Homo sapiens: one gene and its partners. The protein of the gene in region 3 interacts with the protein of the main gene of each other region in a biochemical or structural test. Each region holds a gene or a part of one and is shown on either strand. Other genes may lie near its edges.

Evidence for each region.
Region 1: the proteins of POLI (region 3) and ERG form a complex in vitro, tested with the Homo sapiens proteins (one large-scale study listed by BioGRID).
Region 2: the proteins of POLI (region 3) and NEDD8 form a complex in vitro, tested with the Homo sapiens proteins (2 studies listed by BioGRID, with this or other methods).

What each region holds. Positions count from the first base shown.
Region 1 is NC_000021.9:38,400,855-38,404,511, forward strand, and holds part of ERG (transcriptional regulator ERG), read right to left. Parts: intron 2,856-3,657; coding exon 2,652-2,855; intron 1,784-2,651; coding exon 1,703-1,783; intron 1-1,702. UniProt on the Homo sapiens protein: Transcriptional regulator. May participate in transcriptional regulation through the recruitment of SETDB1 histone methyltransferase and subsequent modification of local chromatin structure.
Region 2 is NC_000014.9:24,216,212-24,219,374, forward strand, and holds the end of NEDD8 (ubiquitin-like protein NEDD8), read right to left. Parts: intron 2,221-3,163; coding exon 2,173-2,220; intron 2,005-2,172; coding exon 1,922-2,004; intron 1,013-1,921; coding exon 916-1,012; 3' UTR 646-915; downstream 1-645. Other genes in the region: NEDD8-MDP1 protein, read right to left, coding at 1,922-2,004, 2,173-2,220. UniProt on the Homo sapiens protein: Ubiquitin-like protein which plays an important role in cell cycle control and embryogenesis via its conjugation to a limited number of cellular proteins, such as cullins or p53/TP53.
Region 3 is NC_000018.10:54,289,931-54,293,587, reverse strand, and holds part of POLI (DNA polymerase iota isoform a (long)), read right to left. Parts: intron 1,756-3,657; coding exon 1,550-1,755; intron 1-1,549. UniProt on the Homo sapiens protein: Error-prone DNA polymerase specifically involved in DNA repair. Plays an important role in translesion synthesis, where the normal high-fidelity DNA polymerases cannot proceed and DNA synthesis stalls. Favors Hoogsteen base-pairing in the active site.

The DNA of each region.
Region 1 (3,657 bases), on a different chromosome or scaffold from region 3:
CCGTTTGCTATAAAGCGTTTTGTGTTTTGATTTTATAACTTCTTGATGAAGCCCTATCTGTGTCCCCCTCAATCCCACTTCCCACTGGGCAATCTCGTTTTATTAAAAAATTATATGGTACATGTTTTATTTTTCAACTTGTATAAAAACCCATAATATATTTTACAGAGCTTTTGGAAAGTAGTATCAAGCAATTATAAGTATTTAGCCTAAGAGTATATGGATTTTATTAATAATTAATCCACATCTCTATTCAAATGCATTTTCCCTCTCTCTCTTTTGACCAAAACTCATGCTGTTAGCTGAGAAAATTCCCTTTTCATAGTTCAGTCCATTTGGAATTTGTTGTCTTGTTCATTGGTTTCTTCCGTGTTTAACAATAGCAAAATTTAATATATTTGGAGCTTTTTTGAAACTTTCACTCAATGGTTAAAGAACTCATAAATAAATGTGAAATTATCAGAAAATGTGCATAGCTCAAAGGTGTTTCCTAAGAAGGGGAAGTAACTTCCTCTAAGTTATCTGTTATTTCTGGCCACAAGGTCACTAATAGGCTGATGTGTGCAACCAAAATTATTGAAAAAGTGTACTACCAACTCGAAGCAGGTTTTTTAAAACTTCAGATTAAAAAGACAATGTGTTGAATATAGAAGACCATGATAAATGAGCAATTTCATTGTAATACTCAAACCGGGACTCACTCACATTTTATATTTTAAAATAAAATGGTAAATATTGGGAAAATTGCGTATTTCTATGTGAGGGCTGATCGTGAGTTAACTGGCTGACTTGCAAGGCTTTCTGGCACTTCCCGTCTCCCTCCCTAGCCCGAGTGATTGTGGAGGGTCCCTGCAGCTAACAGAGTGGGGTGAGCAGCCGGTGGCCATGCTTCCGGAACTCTCTCCATCAGGAAGGAGCAGATGGATGTGAACCAGGAACACATTCATCCACAGAAAACCCAGCCTCTGCTGTGAGCGGGGGGCGAGGGAGGAAGGTTAGCCAGGATGAGGCACGGTGTTAAACCCTACTTAGGCTCAGGCAAAATAAATACATAACTAAGTCAAATGTAGAGGCAACGGTTAGAGATAGAAAACAGGCATTTGGTTAGTGACTAATTTCATATTCTCCAAAATTATAGCAGAGGTTCCCTCTGAACAAAAGCTCTCAAAATGTTACAGAAATTCCCTCCTGCCTTTTGCAAACATACAAAGTCTGTAGGAAAACAAATCAAATAGCCTAAAAGTTTATTGGAAAGGAAAAAGAAAATTCCAACTTATCCTAGCAAATATTTCTTTAAGAATAAAAATGGAAAAAATTAAAGGAGGTTGCTAAGGGCCCTTTTATATCGAACATGCTTTTAGTGTCTACAGAGTCAGCACAGCGAATATATTGGGACCAACAGAAGAAGACTGTAATCCGGCAAATGTGAGCTAAGTTATGGCTAAAGGCAAATTCTGCACGTCTCCTGGTTAAAAAGGAACCCTTTGATAATCAAAGTGGGGTGCTTGGGAAGCGCTCAGAAAACCAAAGGGCTTCACCTTCCTTTAGGCTGTGGTACATTCCTAAGTATCCGAAAGTATTCTGAATCATCTACCTGCGTTCTGTCTTCCTGGCACGCGCTGACTGGTTTCCCATGAAAGCATGCAACCTGTACGTAAGACCCTACGCTCTTGCTGGGAGGCAGGGGCGGGGCCAGCATTACCTGTGTTTCTAGCATGCATTAACCGTGGAGAGTTTTGTAAGGCTTTATCAACATCATCTGAAGTCAAATGTGGAAGAGGAGCTACAAAACAAAACAAAAAGCGACATCAAAATGAAAAAAAAAAGAGAGAGAGAGAAAGAGAATTACCTTTCTTACAAAAAAAAAAAAAAAAAAAGAAAGAAAAAGAAAGAAAGAAAACCGTTCCCCCACTCCCACACTAACATCATGGGAAGCTTATAACTATTTCCAGCAACCTGCTACTTGTTAGCATGTTAAAACCTACATGGGGGCCCGTCTTTAATTCAGGGAAGAAGTGGTTGGGATGCCAGGCAAAGCAATGGAGGAGAATTTATCCACCTCACTGTCTGTCACACTACTTCCTTCTCACCATGCTGGACGTTGTAGAAATTAAAGCATGCAGCAAACATTCTGGATTCATGCCAACATGCCATCCCTTTCTGTCAGGTTAAGCCGAATCACATGATACAAAGTGAAAACTTCCCTTGTTCTGTGCTCAGGTTAGAATATAAAGTGGGGCTTCATGTAGCTTTAGGGAGAATAATCCCCCTAATTCCTACGAAAGAGAAGCCTTAATGATTCTATTTCGATTCGGGGTATCATGGAGACTTAACTAATGTGTGACCAGTTAACGCTTCCTTTCCCCTTTGACATTCCATCTTCTTGGTCGCAGGACCCTGGAGGAGGCAGCTGAGTGTTGAAGTGAATTTTGGCTTCTCCTGAGAGCGCTGACTACTTCTCATCAGGTGATGTGGCCAGGGTGTTGCTCCCCTAAGTCATCACATACCAAGCATGTGGCTCCCTCGGATCCCCAGTGGGAACTGGGCGAGGGCAGGAGGATGCTGTCGACACACCTGGTTGAACCCTCTGAAGCTCAGGTCATAAGAACCATAGCCACAGCCATCTATCCTTGGAGGAAGGGGGAGCTTACTCTCTCTGAGGTAGTGGAGATGTGAGAGAAGGATGTCGGCGTTGTAGCTGGGGGTGAGCCTCTGGAAGTCGTCCTTGGTCATCTTGCACAGTTCCTTCCCATCGATGTTCTGGAATAACAAGATGTTGACGTCTGGAAGGCCATATTCTTTCACCGCCCACTCCAGCCACTGCCGCACATGGTCTGTACTCCATAGCGTAGGATCTGAAAGGGGTGGGAACACATTCAGTCAATTCCTGAAGCCAGGGATCTTCATCTTGGGGTAGATCCCCATCCACGTGGGATTTCTGACCAGCTGCCTTCCACAAGCACAGCCTCCAGCCAGCCTCCCTGGCTACCCAGGAGAACATTTTGGGGGAAAGACAAAAGCTGCCTCACATCCATAGATCATTGTCTTTAAAGTGAATAGTTCTGGAATCTTGGGATTATTCACATCACATGCCCTTGTTTTTGCTCAATCTAAAGTTTCCTGTAGGCATAAGATTTTAAAAATTCTTTTTTCTCATTTATGTTCAATTTTATTTATTTATTTTAAAATGAGTAAGAATAAGAGGAAACTTCTTTTCCTTAGAAAACTACTGGTATATTTATATATATTTATATGGAAATAAGAGTAAGCCACACATATCAGGAAGGTGCTAATTACAGATCACAACAACAACAAAAATAATAATAACAGTATTTATGCAAAATACTGAAAAATACTGACCACAGAATCGGAAATGAAATATAGATACACCAAGACTCTAGCCCCTCCTATGAGCCAGCGTTCCTCATAGAGAGCTGTCAGTTCCAGACTTTTCCTGCAGGGTGTTTGGTTTTGCAATTAACCAGCACCTGCAGGAGTGGGGTTGGTGAGTGGTTTTTGCATTCCACAGCTGGCCATGGCGAGCACAAACACCCCACAGGATGCAGGCCACGTCGTCACACTCCAGTGCTACCTATGGGACAGGGAGAGCAGGGCCCGGGGGAGAAGGAGCAGGTGATCTCCAACAGAAACGCCAGC
Region 2 (3,163 bases), on a different chromosome or scaffold from region 3:
CCACGGGCATCCTCCCTACTTCTCCACTCCACCCAGCCTTGCCCGATTCTATTATACTAAGAAGCCAGGGAAGAAGGAAAGCCTTTTCTTCTAGCACCTGCCTCTTCTTGAGACCCAAGTGATACATCACAGCTTGTCACTCAATCTTTCTGCATTATCAACCTCCTGACAGTGTAGAACCCAAAGTCCTCAGTAATATTCCAGCCATAGAGTACAGTGTCAGCCAAACCCTTGAAGGCGTTCTCCAACCAGGCCTAAATGTCCAGTACAGCCACAGTCAAGAGAGAATTCACTCTCCGAAGGTTTCACCATCCATGTCAGCACTACACTGGTAGATGTATAACAACCAGTTTGTGGGGAGGAACTGATCTGTAGTGTTTGCTAGTTTCTGTAAATAATCCTACCATGGCCAATTTCAAGCTACCAACATGAAGTCACTTAATAGAGTTGGAAAAAGGTGCCAATAATTGGCTCTCATTAGCCACTAGGAACTGGTTCCAACACACCACTAAGTAGGTTTTCCTAGAGTCTGATAATCCCCGTAAGAGCACCATTCCTTCCACTGTCCGATTCCTTCAGCCTGCTATAACTGAGTGAGCATTAGGTCCATTTTTATTTCAGTCAACTTGTGCAACAGAAGAAAGATTCCAGGAGGCCAGGAAATATTTTATTGACAACCAGGGACACAGTCATAAGAGAGGGAAGCACACAGGACTGCAAACTAACACCCAGTAGCCAGCAAGGGCCCTCTGGGCCAGGAATACTGAATCCTGGGATCCTCACAGTCTCCCACCAGTAGACATACATTACTGGGCATCCAGGGGAGGGGGCAGTGGCTATGGTGTCCCAGAGAGTGAGAGGATATATGATGCCTCATTATGAGCGACAGGGTAAAGAGGTAAAATGGAGGGTCCATCACTGCCTAAGACCACCTCCTCCTCTCAGAGCCAACACCAGGTGAAGGACTGAACCACCTAAAATCTTGTAATCAGCTGCTGTCTTCTCATCATTCCTGCAGGAAAAGGAAGCCAGAAAAAAAAGAAAAAGAAGACTTAGGAGTTTTTTGTTGTTGTTGTTGTTGTTGTTGTTGTTGTTTTTGACAGAGTCTCGCTCTGTCATCTAGGCTGGAGTACAGTGGCACGATCTCAGCTCACTGCAACTTCCACCTCCTGGGTTCAAGCAATTCTCCTGCTTCAGCCTCCTGAGTAGCTGGGATTACAAGCGCCCACCACCACGCCCAGCTAATTTTTGTATTTTTAGTAAAGATGGGGTTTCACCATGTTGGCCAGGCTGGTCTCGAACTCCTGACCTCAGGTGATCCACCCCCTTCAGCCTCCCAAAGTGCTGGGATTACAGGCGTGAGCCACTGCGCCCGGCCAGAACAGGAGTTCTTGAGTTTCCTGGATCTCTTTGGGGGTCTGTGAACTTGAATGAGAAAAAAAATCCCATCTTTATTTTTACTAACCCCCAACTGAAATTTAACATTTCTTCTAACTTTAAACATAGCCCAAAAACCACAGTAGTATTAGCAATATAGGTAACTTGTTAACAATAGCAATTAACTATTTTCTATCATGATCATTTATAGGTATCTTGAAAATATTTCAAAATTATGGTCATATTAGACCTACCATTAGATCTTATGCATTAATAAAAAAGTACATATATTACTATATCACAAATTTGTTTTAGTATTTTAATAACTATTTCAATATAATTAGTTTTCCTTTAATTCTATATATTTTGTTTTATGCCTGAAAAAATCTTATTCTGAGAAGGGGCTTAGAGGCTTCACCAGATTGCCAAAGAGTCTTAGGCACCAAAAACAAGAGGCACCCCTGATCCACCTCAGTACGTGCCCCCTCTCCTCTTCTCATCTTCACATAAGATCGCCATGCTGTCATTCTCACTCCAAACTCACATCTGCTTGCCACTGTAGATGAGCCTCTGCTGTTGTGGGGGGATTCCCTCTTTCTCCTCCACACGCTCCTTGATTCGCTCCACCTTTAGAGAGACAAGTAGTCAGGGGCTGCTGCTTAGGGGTAGGACCATGGAAACGGAAAGAACAAGGGCTATGCAGACAGCATGAGAGCAAAAGGACCAAGTTCATAAGCATATGCAAACAAATACACATGGCAAGAAGTACATGAAGAGGAGTTGGGCATGCATCACCTTGTCTGTAGGTTCAATGTCAATCTCAATCTCCTTTCCGGTCAGCGTCTGAAACAGGCAATGGTTTCATGAGTCCTTAAAGCCCAATGTACAATTTGTCTTCTAGGTAAAACATCCTATGTTGGTCTTTGGGATCTACTGCCTTCTAAAAGATGCATATTCTCAGCAGCACTGCTTTGGAGAATGAGAAGGCTTTGAACATACCTTCATTTATCAAATATTTTTAGGCTGTAAACAACTTTGATAGGGCAAGATTCTTTGAACCATCTGATCCTCTTAATTCCATGAGTCATCTTCCAACATCAGTCCCCCAAAATCAGTGAGAATATTGGCATTATTTTAGATGATACGGCAATGAAAGGATTTATTTATTTATTTTTGAGATGGAGTTTCGCTCTTGTTGACCAGGCTGGAGTGCAATGGCACAATCTCGGCTCACTGCAACTTCTGCCTCCCAGGTTCAACCAATTCTCCTGCCTCAGCCTCCCACGTAGCTGGGATTACAGGCATGCGCTACCAGGCCTGGCTAATTTTGTATTTTTAGTAGAGACAGGATTTCTCCATGTTGATCAGGCTGGTCTCAAACTCCCAACCTCAGGTGATCCACCCGCCTCAGCCTCCCAAAGTGCTGGGATTACAGGGGTAAGCCACTGCACCCAGCCTGAAAGATATCTTAAAAAAAGTCAGAAGGACCTTGTTCTAAATATCAATGCTAGAAATTAATATTCAGATAATTTGAAGAATTCTCAAGGACACCAGAAATCATCTCAGCAGTTTTTTAAAAAATGCTAGAATTGGCTGGGCATGGTGGCTCACACCTGCAATCCCAACACCTTGGGAGACTGAGGCGGGAGGATCACTTGAGCCTAGGAGTTCCAGACCAGCCTGGACAACACAGCGAAACCCTGTCTCAACCAAAACAACAACAACAACAACAACAACAACAAAAATTAGCTGAGTACAGTGGTGCATGCCTGTAGTACCAGCTATT
Region 3 (3,657 bases):
TGCTGTGTGCCTGTAGCTATTATCTGACATGTTTCTAACCTACTCAACAAATACAACTCTTTGTGGCCAGTTCCAAACAACTAGAGATCTACTACCACAATTATTCACACTATTTTGTGAATCTCTACCCACTATTCCAGGAAGAGGTTTCCTTCCTAGATAGCACTGAGACAGAGGTAAATATGCATTTGGAGACCTGGGAAGATTGTAACAATCATGCAACCAAACTTTCAATTCTATAAATAAAAGAATGGCGGCCTAGAAAAGCAAGTTCACCTAAGGGTATTTTTCAAAAAAACATACACATATAGCATCAAGGGCTAGTTTTCCAAAAATTACTATTCTAAAGGGTAACTTTTAACAAAAAGAAAAAAAAAGCCTATAACAAAACCCAACATCATCAAGATATAGTACTAGTTTATATTTATATAAAATAAAAATTTAAAGACACTTTCAACTCTAACTTGCATAATTTTTCTATACAGTTTTTCATTTAAATCCTTTAGTTTCAAGCACCATAAAAATATAAACATAGTCAAATATAACTCCGTAAACATCAACACAATATGAACTCCAAAAAAGTAAAAGTAGTAGAAAAGATTCAGGCCCTTATATTTATTGACTACCTACTGTGTGACAAATACATACAAGGTACTTTCACTTATATTTACTTTTCTAATGCCACTATAAATGAGCACTTTTAATTCCAATTTCACAGATTAATTAAAATGTAAAAAGAAAACACTTTTTTAAATTTAATAAATGGAATAAGAAGGGTCACAGAAAAAAGTAATTTGAAGAGAGCATTAATTCACTATTTCCATACACTATCCTGTTCTCACTTTAAACTTAAATGAAAATGAAAAGGTTACTAAAATTATACTGACTAAACAAACACAAAAGTATTTTAAATTGAGTTAATTATAGGCATGAACAATTTAGTAAAAAATAATTGTTTTTAAGGCAACCCACATTTACTAAATAGTGGTTTGTCTATTAATAAAAGGGTTTTGTTTTAGTCGTCTGAAAATGTGACTGGCCTCTGCCTTTCTATTGCCACACTGTTAACTTTACAACTATGAAATCAGTAGTCAAATCTATCAATATTGCTATCAAAATTCAATACTATTTCAAAATGAAGAAAATGTAAATACTTTAACAAAAGAATCATGGGAAAGGTACTAGTAGCTCATGTGTCAGCTAAAAGACAAAAAGATGTGATTTCTAATATCTGCAAATATTTTAATACTTATGAGCTAATCCATCATATTTTTATATACTATAAAATGTGTTAACAATTCCAAAATAGAGAACCTCCATAATGGTTCTCTCTTTTATCCAGTGATGCTTATGTTTTCTTCTTAGATCACAGCATATTTAAGGCCAGAAACCATAAGATAGGTATTATAAACAAGTTAATCACCTAAACAATATCACCCAAAAGAATCTCTAAACTATATCAAAAAGACAAGCACTTAGATTTGTAATGTAACCACACAAATCCCATAAGAGTATACTTAGAAAACTGAACAAAAAAGAGTGTACTTACAAAACTGTGCTTGCCAGAGCGTGAAGTAGTTGATAATGATGGCATTAAATAATAATCAATAAGCCCTTTCTTAGCAGTATTTAGTGCTTTAAGGTTGCAGAAGCACACACTTAGAAGGGTAAGGTGAAATGGCATCTTCACATTCACCATATTTCGAAAAAGTTTCATAAGTATATCAACCATTGGGGTCATCACATCATAATTTCCTAAATAAAATGTTTAAGAATAAACATTATAATTAATATTAAGAGCATAATATATTTTATATTGCTGAGATTAAGAAATTAAAATCCTAAATATCACTGGGCATCTTGACATTATATACCAAATTAAGACATTTCAATATTAATACTAAATGGTTAAAAATTTTCAAAAGATTTGAAATATGGGATTTCTGGTTATACTACACTGATATGGTCAGAAAATCCTCTCTCAAAAAGCTACTATAAAACTGAACAACATTGTCAAAAACAATCATTTTGGTGGAAATCTGGAAATGAACCAAAGGCAAACAAAGTGAGAAGTACTGATCTATGAACAGCTGCTATATGTTAGCTAAGAAAGTAGGAGATAGCAGCTTCACTGTCTGGGACTGTTCGAATGTCCCTTTACATAGCTCAGTTGGTACAGGGTGAAGGCTGCAAAAGCCAGCAGTTTCACTTCCAGAGGGGACAGACCTGATTTGAGGCAGTGGGCAAAAGCCCACACTCAGCAGTGTTGCCAGTAAAATGAGCAAATTTGATAGGAAACGAATGGGAAGATCCCACAGCTCTGCTAGTCTGAAGCTTCAGTCGTGGTTCGGGTGAAGGACAGATCAGTGGACCAGCCAGATATGTCACCAGGAGATTTGGAAATGAGAGAACCAAAGAGGGACTACATAGGCTCCCCGTACAACCCTAGTTGACTAGGAGGCTACATGCAAATAAATGGAAGGCCACAGAGGGCCCAAGCTCCCCATACACTCCTTACTGAAAGGGCTACATGCACATCATGGGGAGATAAAGAGGGCCTAGCAGAAATTAAAATTCAAGAAAAACTTGAAAATGGCCTAATTTTTTTTCTTTTATACTTTAAGTTCTGGGGTTCATGTGCACAATGTGCAGATTTGTTACATAGGTATACATGTACCGTGTTAGTTTGCTACACCTATCAACTCTTCATTTACATTAGGTATTTCTCCTAATGCTATCCCTCCCTCAGCCCTCCATCCAGATAGGCCCCGGTGTGTGATGTTCTCCTCCCTGTGTCCATGTGTCCTCGTTGTTCAACTCCCACTTATGAGTGAGAACATGTGGTGTGTGGTTTTCTATCCTGGTGATAGTTTGCTGAGAATGATGGTTTCCAGCTTCATCCATGTCCTTGCAAAGGACATGAACTCATCCTTTTTTATGGCTGCATAGTATTCCATGATGTATATGTGACACGTTTTCTTTATCCAGTCTATTACTGATGGACATTTGGGTTGGTTCCAAGTCTTTGCTATTGTGAATAGTGCCACAATAAACATACGCGTGCATGTGTCTTTATAGTAGCATGATTTATAATCTTTTGGGTATATACCCAGTAATGGGATCACTGGGTCAAATGGTATTTCTAGTTCTAGATCCTTGAGGAATCACCACACTGTCATCCACAATGGTTGAACTAATTTACACTCCCACCAACAGTGTAAAAGTGTTCCTATTTCTCCACATCCTCTCCAGCATCTGTTGTTTCCTGACTTTTTAATGATCGCCATTCTAACTGGCATGAGCTGGTATCTCATTGTGGTTTTGATTTGTATTTCTCTAATGACCAGCAATGATGAGCATTTTTTCATATGTCTGTTGGCAGCATAAATGTCTTCTTTTGAAAAGTGTCTGTTCATATCCTTTGCCCACTTTTTGATGGGGTTGTTTGCTTTTTTCTTGTAAATTTGTTTAACTTCTTTGTAGATTCTGGATATTAGCCCTTTGTCAGATGGGTAGATTGCAAAAATTTTCTCCCATTCTGTAGGTTGCCTGTTCACTCTGCTGATAGTTTCTTTTGCTGTGCAGAAGCTCTTTAGTTTAATTAGGTCCCATCTGTCAATTTTGGCTTTTGTTGCCATTGCTTTTGGTGTTTTAGTC